Linked DNA regions of Homo sapiens. The protein of the gene in region 1 interacts with the protein of each later gene in a pairwise test. Each region holds a gene or a part of one and is shown on either strand. Other genes may lie near its edges.

Region 1 (3,823 bases):
TTGACCTCCAGCTTAAGGCCACAGAGACTCTCGGAAGCTTCCGTATGGATGTACTGCACATGGGGCATCTTGGTGAAGCCTCGGTACATCTGTGGGCAAAAGGAACATCATGACTTCTTCTTTCCCAGTTTGGACACCCGTATGATCCCTAATCCCACTGCTGGGTATGTATCCAAAGGAAAGGAAATCGGAATATGGAAGAGGGGTCTGCACTCTCATGTTGACTGCAGCAATATTCACAATAGCCAAGATATGAAATCAACCTAAGTGCCCATCAACAGATGAATGGATAGACAAAACCTGGTATCTATACCCAATGGAATATGATTCATCCAGAAAAAAGAATGAAATCTTGTCATTTGTGGCAATGCAGCTGGAACTGGAGGTCGTTTTGCTAAGCGGAATAAGCCAGGCACAGAAAGACAAATACACCATGTTCTCACTCATGTGGGAGCTAAGAAAGTAAATCTCATAAAGATGGACAGTGGATTGGTGGTTACCAGAGGCAAGAAAGGTAATAAGGATTGGGGCAAAGAGATATAATTAATGGGTACAAAAATACGAGTACGCAGAACAAGTAAGACCCAGTGTTCATTGAATCAGTAGAATGACTACAGTAAACAATAACTTATTGTATATCTCAAAGTAGCTAGTAGAGGATAATTCAGATGTTCCCAGCATGAAGAAACGATAAATGTTTAAGGTTATGAATATCCCAATTACCCTGATTTGATTACTATACATTTTTGAATATATCAAAATACCACATGGACTCTCAAAATATGTCCATTTATTATGTATCAATAAAATAAGAGGAACACAGGAGAGGAGTCTCAGTACCCAGAAGGCTTGCTGACATTGGATCTGAGGGAATCTCGCTCCCCTATTCAGCTGTCCAGTGGCCGGTCACTGATCTACCCACCCCAGGGCCCCCTTCACCCCAGATGAAGCCACCGATCCTCTTGACTAGCCAGGTTGGTGCCTTCCCAGAGAAACCTTCCTGTGCAGCCAGCCATACCCCCCATTCCAACTGCCCCACAACACTCCTTCGGCTACACATGTCTGACATCCCAGCACCTTTTCAGAAATCCAGAGAAGTAGCTGTGACAAAGGTCCTTTTTCTTTGTCAACCTTAGGACCTGAGTCCCGTGAACTCAGCCAGCATTCTCATGATATCTCTGTGACACTTTCCAGCCCACAAAAACATTCTCACTCACATTCTCCTTGCAGTATCCTTAAAAGAGCCCTGGGAGGGATGTATTACAAACCCCACTTTATAGAAATTCTATTTGGCTGGTGAACGTTGAATTCAAGCTAGAAATTCTCCATGTTTTTTATTCTTCTGAGCGTCTGGTGAAAGCATTGGGTTCGTTTATCCCAGATGAAGCACATAAATGTATCTACAAAGTTCAAAGAGTTTTAACTGTTAAATACTTTATAATTGTTAGATTGAACCACGTGAAATTGCTGATATTTGGCTATTTGTATCTACGACATAATCTAATACAGTGGTTCTCAACTGGAGGCAATTTTGCCCCCCTAGGAAATATTTGGGACATGTGGCAATGTCTGGAGACAATTTTGGTTGTCACAACAGTTCGTAGAGGGTAGGGAGGTTGCTAAACATCCCATAATACTCAGGACAGCCCCCAGAACAAAGAATTATCCGGCCCCAAATGTCAATGGTACTGAGGTTGAGAAATCTCCTTTAATATTAGCCCACGAATCACCATGACAACCCTATGAGGTAGGAACTATTATGCCCATTTTATAGATGAGGAGCCTGAGTCACAGGCAGGCTAAGTAGCTTGTTAAGGCCACACAGTTGGGAAATGGCAGGGCTAGGATTCCAAGCAGAGGACTCTGCCTTCAGAGTCCATACTCTTACCCATTATCTTAGACTGGCTCCCAGGAAAGCCTCAGAAGTCTATGACCAAGGTCCCCAGAAGCAGGCAAATGCTATTTCCATTTATGGCCACTGTGCCTCCTTCAGAGGCACAGTGTGTGCCCAGAGTCACTGGGGTGAATGAATGTAACAGAAGCTGAGTCCGCTTTGTGATTCCAGGTCAAGTCCATGAGTATTACACAAGCCCAGTGTGCCAAGGCGATACTGTGAACTGTGAGATTTGGTAACGGGGGCGGTGGGGCACCAAGGTGTTGCACAATTCTGTTATCCCCTCAGTTCTCAGCGTACACAAGCCCTGGACTGCTGGTGGTCTCTGGGCTTGTCCCAAGGGTTTATAATAGGAAAATGCCTCTACTTTACTTCCTGGCATTTGGTATTAATTTACCTACAGTAATTAATACAAAGCCAGACATCTCTTCATTGGTGTCTCTTCTAAATGCCTCCCATTTGGCCTGTGAGCTGGCGTTTTCTCATCTTTTAAGTGGTGACTGGTTGGCGGGGGTAGGTGGTCCACAAGACCTTCATAGCATAACTTGGTCTGTTGGACCTACTGAGTTTGGGCGCCCCTGCCTTGTTAAAAGCACACATTGTTCTGATGGACTCAGATGGTCTTCCTTCTGAACCTCTCTTCTCCCCCAAGGCTTGCCAACTGAGCACGGTAACGCAGCCAAGTGCTGGAAGAAGTGCCGTCCACACTCAGCATTCAATTACGCGGTGGGGGCGCGGGGTGGGTAGAGTCACGATGATGACTTCTTCTATGTGAATGGTGCCTCTCTAGCCTTAACAGGAACCATGTTTAAGCGTGCTGCTGTATGCCTGCCATGGAGTGTGGCCTTCGAAGAACATCCCCTACCCTGACTTCTGTGCCGAGCAACTTCTTATTTTTGTGTGGGTGTTCCTTGAGGTTTTGGCAAATGTTTCAACTAAGCACTCGCTCTAGGTCTTTTGGACCCAGCCCATGGGAACCTCATTCCTTCTGCGTCAGTCTTTCCCCTTGACTGCCCTAGTGCTTCGTGGGTGAGAGAATGAAGCCCCTGGTTACAGTCTGGTCATTTGAACTGCTCAGTAAGAACTCAACTCATCGAAATCAGCTTGGCACCGCAGCTACTTGGAAGTTTGAAGGAACCTGCATTTTAGCTCCTAGCACTTGCCTAGAGTCGAAATTCTGACACATTACAAATGACTGGCTCTGACAAACATAGCGCTGTGTTTTAGGGTCAATTCTGAAAAGAACAACATGGCAAAGGTAGATTCTACTCAGTTGTGTTTTCTGTGTAATAATCCTACCTTGATTTAAATATTGATTCTAAAAGTATCATGTCTGTAATCATAGAGATCTAGAATTGGTTTGACAAATTTAGGAGAGTTATAATAGGTTTATAATGTCCTGACATCAGAGAATCCTAGAATCTCAGAGTTGGAAAAGATGTTAAAGGTAATCTAATCCAAACCAATGCCATGGAGATCAGTGGTAAATTCAGGTTTTGGAGGCTGACAGCCAGAGTTTGAATCTTCAATCTTCTCTGCCACCTGTGTTCGCCACTTGGAAAGTTACTTAACCTCTTTGGGTCTCAGTTTCTTCATCTGTAAAATGGGTCAAAGCACTTCTTAGGGTGTTTGAGAGAAGCAAATGACTTAGAATAGCAGTCAGCCCACAACATTCAATAAAAGTTAGCTTAGAACAAGTTATACTGAAATTCGTAAGGAGAGGAGGAATGAGTTTGGTCCCCTTTCTCCTAAGTCCCTTCCTCAGCTCTTAACAAGAGTAGTTAAAGCTGGTTTAGAACTTCAGACATAAGTGGGTTGTTCTTTTTCAGCTGGGTTCTGCATGCCTCTGGGCCCCTCTTCTTCTTCTTGGTAGCATCTACACAAAGTTCCAAGATGTTAGCTTCCCTTGGAGTGAAGGGACAAATAAAG
Region 2 (4,406 bases), on another chromosome or scaffold:
AATGGGCAATTCCTGAAAGTCACTGGACGATAAAACATAGTTACATTTGGTTTCAGAAGATTCAGAAAAGATTAGGGGAAATTTTATTATTTTATTAAAACCACTTAAAAATAATTCTGGTGAGCCTCAAAGCAAGTAGCCATGTTGATTACATGCATTTTGCTCTCACGTTTAAGACACAAAGGTCTCCATTTCTCTAAGAGAACTGCTTTTCCGGCAAGACATACTCTCTCTTTTCCCTTGGAGCCAAGTAATTGGAACCCTAAACACACTGCGGAGCTTCTGTTGGAACCGGTTTCCAACAAAACAATACAGAAACGGATTAACGCAGCTGTTGGTGAATCCCAAGAGGATGGCAAAAGGAAGTGCCAGGTCAATGACTGCTATAACTTCGCAGCTATTAATGACACCCATCCAGGCCAGAGCATCCAGGAAGGTCAGAACATGGAAGGGAAGCCAGCAAATGATGAAGGCCAGAACAACAGCAGCTGCCATCTTCAGGACTTGGTCACGGGTTATCCTGTTCTTCCCATAGCTATTCGTCTTCAGTAAGTGTTTTCTAATTCCAAAATAGCATGTTGCTATGAATATTAAAGGGATAATAAAACCAAGGATATTTTTCATTAAGGCAATCCCAGCTGACCATTGGGCATATTTCTCAGGTGGGAAAGCCATAATGCAAGCATTCACTCCTAAGTATTCAATGGTTCTGACGTCTCGAAAATAAAATGTTGGCAATGAGGACAAACAGGCCATACACCAAACAAGGGGAACTATATAAGATGCTTGCCAGGGATTTCTTCTTTGAGACAGAAAGGGGTAGATGACAGATTGGTACCTATCAACACTCATGCAGGTGATAAAAAAAATGCTTGCAAACATGTTCAGGGTAAGAAAAGAACCAAAAACTTTGCACATCACAGGTCCAAAGAGCCAGTCATATCTATAAGAATAATAGGTTGCCCATAGAGGAAGAGTAGCCAAAAGGAGTAAATCAGCCACAGCGAGGTTGAAGATGTATATGCTAGAAACCTTTTTAGGACCCTTTTGACAACAAAACAGTGTAACCACGACAATATTGACCAGAAATCCAATTACAAATATAATGTAGTAAAGAATAGGAATTGCATCTAAATGCTTATCTGATGGTTTCTGTGAACAGTTCAAGGTAGACTCATTGTTGCCAGAGATGTTCACAAGCCCGAAGTGAAGACCGCTGGTAATGTTTTTGCTAGTAGTGGCAAGGGTGGAGTTGCCCTTCATATTGAAATGTCAGCAGCTCCTAGTTCTTATGCCTTCTGTGGAGAAAAAACATAGAACTCTTAGAACACATACAGAGCTGAGGACATCCTTGAATCATTAGCATTTTGAATGTTTGTCAAAAGCAAAAAAAAAGTGAGTGATTATAGAAAACATTAAGAAACAGAGCCATGGCTTGTAAAACAAGAATTCATTTTACCTCTTGAAAAAGGAGAAATAATTTTCCTGATAGTAGAAAAAAGACATTTCAGAGATTCAAAGTTCTGAATAAAACTACCTTTTGCCCATCTTTTCTATGATGTTTTTGAAAGATTTAAAGAAAATTAATATTTCAAAAGATTAGTCAGGGCAGGAAATGTGTGAAACAAATAAGAAACCCAGAGGTAAGAAAAGTTAATCTTTCAAAAAACACTTGAGCATATATCTCTGTTTGTATACTTTCTAGAAACCACACTGCTGCTTGCTATTGCATAGAGAAATGCTCTATTTAAGTAACTAATTACATACAAATCACTACAGCTGTGGAAAATATAAGTAACATAAGCAATGGAAAAAATAAGTATATAAAAAACTAAAAGAGAATATGCCAAAGGAACATATTGTGATGGGGAATCATGGTTTGTCTTTAATAATTAAAAATAATTCCTTTAGTTTTACTTTTCTATTGTTTTCACAATAATAATATAGTTAAGAAGAAGTTATGAAATATATTTATATTTCTAAGTCTTCTCCTTTTAATAGAGAATATTAGTTTTAGATATAGATATCTAATTTTGGTCTATTTAATATCTAAACAATCCATTTTCAATTAAATCAGATAAAGAAAAAAACAGCCAAACCTATGTTAGGTTCAAGTAGAAGTAGTTTAGATTGCTCAGTGAAATGAGAAATGAACATCAATGATTAATCATGATATAGTCTTATCATTTTTCTTTTTCTCTCTTTTCGGTTTAACCGAACTGAATAGCCGTTGCTCTCAAACGTTACAGTGTTGAGGTTTTTGTGATTTTTTTCACTAGAAGCATTATTTTAAAACCAAAAAAAAAAACACATTAGCTAAAGATAAGCATACAAAGGAAACACTATTTACTTTAGATAGTTTCAAAATACATGCAAATAAGCTACCCAATTAAAAGTGTAATATCTAAAGAACCTCCTAATAAAGAGCAAAACTTTTATTTTGCTCTAAAGATTTTTCTTTTGACCTAACAAATTAACATAAAAGAATCAATAATAAATTCCACTTGAAGACTTACTGGTTGTTGAAGTTTAAAGCAGTTATCATAAATCAGCTTGCTTAGTGCCTAAACACACTCCTGTAAGAGAAACAGCAGCTAAATAATTCAGGAGTTTTGCAAAATACAGTGTTAAAACACAGGAAAAACAGAAGTTCATCCATAAAAAATATTTTCATTTAATGTATGTTCTACTTTCCAAGTAAATTATATATAAATTGTTCATACTTACCTTCAAAATTCAGGCTGCAGAATGCTTTGAATTCTGTGCTTACTCGTTCTCTCAGACGCTGGGACGTAATAGCACCAGATCTCTGGTTTCCTTCTTATATGTTTGGTCTGTCCACTGGGAGCCTTCAACCTACATAATTCTAGGGCTGACTTATGAACCCTTGCCAGCTTTCCAGAGAGGTTTTTTTTTGTCTGCAAAACATTAATCTGAAATTCTCACTGTCTCCAATCATAACAGCTCATTCAAATAAATCTCAAACAAAAAAAATGAAGTTTCCACAAATGTGCTAGAGAATTTTGAAGTCAGTGGCTTACTTGGTAGGAGAAAAATATAGTAATTATTTACAGAATTTTCTCTTCCTTTTTTCCTGATATTGGCATTCTAATAGAAATTAGTGAGTAGAGACTAGGAAATTTATTATAGTAGCAAAGTCTTTGTTCATCAGCTTTCACAACCTTCATTACTTTCTGAAATTTTTACCCCTGTTTATTAAAGAATGGTAGGAATTTTACTTGAAGTCTACCACTTCTAAAATTTCTCCCTTGCTTTGCGCAGTTTTTGTTGGCTTGTTGCTGGAGGGTTGGAGATTGCAGGAATATAATTTTTACACGACCAAAAAGAGGTTTAGTCTCCTTTCATAGGTCTCTGTCATATTTGTGGTTTAAATACAAAGCACATAAAGTGAAGAGGGATTCGCTAGCTATTTCAACCTAGATCACTGTTGCTGCTGTCTCTTGTGGCAGTGGGGGCAATAAACTACACAACCAATCCAGCAGAAGCAAGAGTGACAAAATGAAGAAAGATAAGAACAGGTGATGGTAGTGATAATACTAGCTGACAATAAATGTTATGTGCCGAACACTGTGATGAGTTATTTATCATCAATAATTTAATAGAGAGGCAATATAGCACACTGGTTAGTAAATAGCCTCTGGGATCCAACTACCTGGCTTTACAAACCCAGCTCTACCACTTACTAATTCTGACCTTGGCCAAGTTACTTTACTTCTTCATGTCTCAGTTTCTCATCTGAGAAAGGAGAATGATATAAATTACCTACATCGTAGAGTAGGAATTTTAAATAAGCTAATGGAAAATTAAATGAGCTAATATGTTTAAAGTGCCTAAAATCATGCCTAGCATATGGTAGGTGCTATTACAAGCTATTCATATTAGCCCCCACTTTACAAATCAGGAAACTAGGACTCATAGAGTTTAATAACTTTTCTGAGATCATACAGCTATTAAATGAAGACACTTGCATTTAAATCAAAGGAAACTAATATCAGAACTCACGCTGTTTAGCCTCTATACCACAAGAGGAAGCACTAGATGGTCCCTTAGTCTCACTCTTTGTCTTGGCAAAAAGGAAACGTGGCATTTACAGAAAATCACTGATGACCATTCATAATCTATCATAAAAGCATCAAAGAAGGGGAAAAGAATTGGAAGAATTGTTATGTGGGGAAACGTATTTTTCTTAATTGTATTGCCCAAATGGAGACCACAGGAAGGAGAAACTTGTGACTAGATGGCTTTCTATAGTTAGTACAGAGAACCAGAGAACCTAGAGCACATTTTAAATGGGCAAAAAGATTCAAGTTATTTCTGTGGATCATATTTTTCAGATAAGCAGCAAGAATGCACCTGTCCATGCTGCAGGCCACAGGTAAAGAATG

The links.
Region 2: the proteins of TIMP3 (region 1) and AGTR2 interact in binary tests that used the Homo sapiens proteins (3 or more experiments, as listed by UniProt).

The regions. Positions count from the first base shown.
Region 1 is NC_000022.11:32,853,515-32,857,337, reverse strand, and holds part of TIMP3 (metalloproteinase inhibitor 3 precursor), read right to left. Parts: intron 90-3,823; coding exon 1-89.
Region 2 is NC_000023.11:116,169,138-116,173,543, reverse strand, and holds the start of AGTR2 (type-2 angiotensin II receptor), read right to left. Parts: upstream 2,801-4,406; 5' UTR 2,728-2,800; intron 2,577-2,727; 5' UTR 2,517-2,576; intron 1,299-2,516; 5' UTR 1,264-1,298; coding exon 172-1,263; 3' UTR 1-171. UniProt on the Homo sapiens protein: Receptor for angiotensin II, a vasoconstricting peptide. Signals primarily via a non-canonical G-protein- and beta-arrestin independent pathways. Cooperates with MTUS1 to inhibit ERK2 activation and cell proliferation.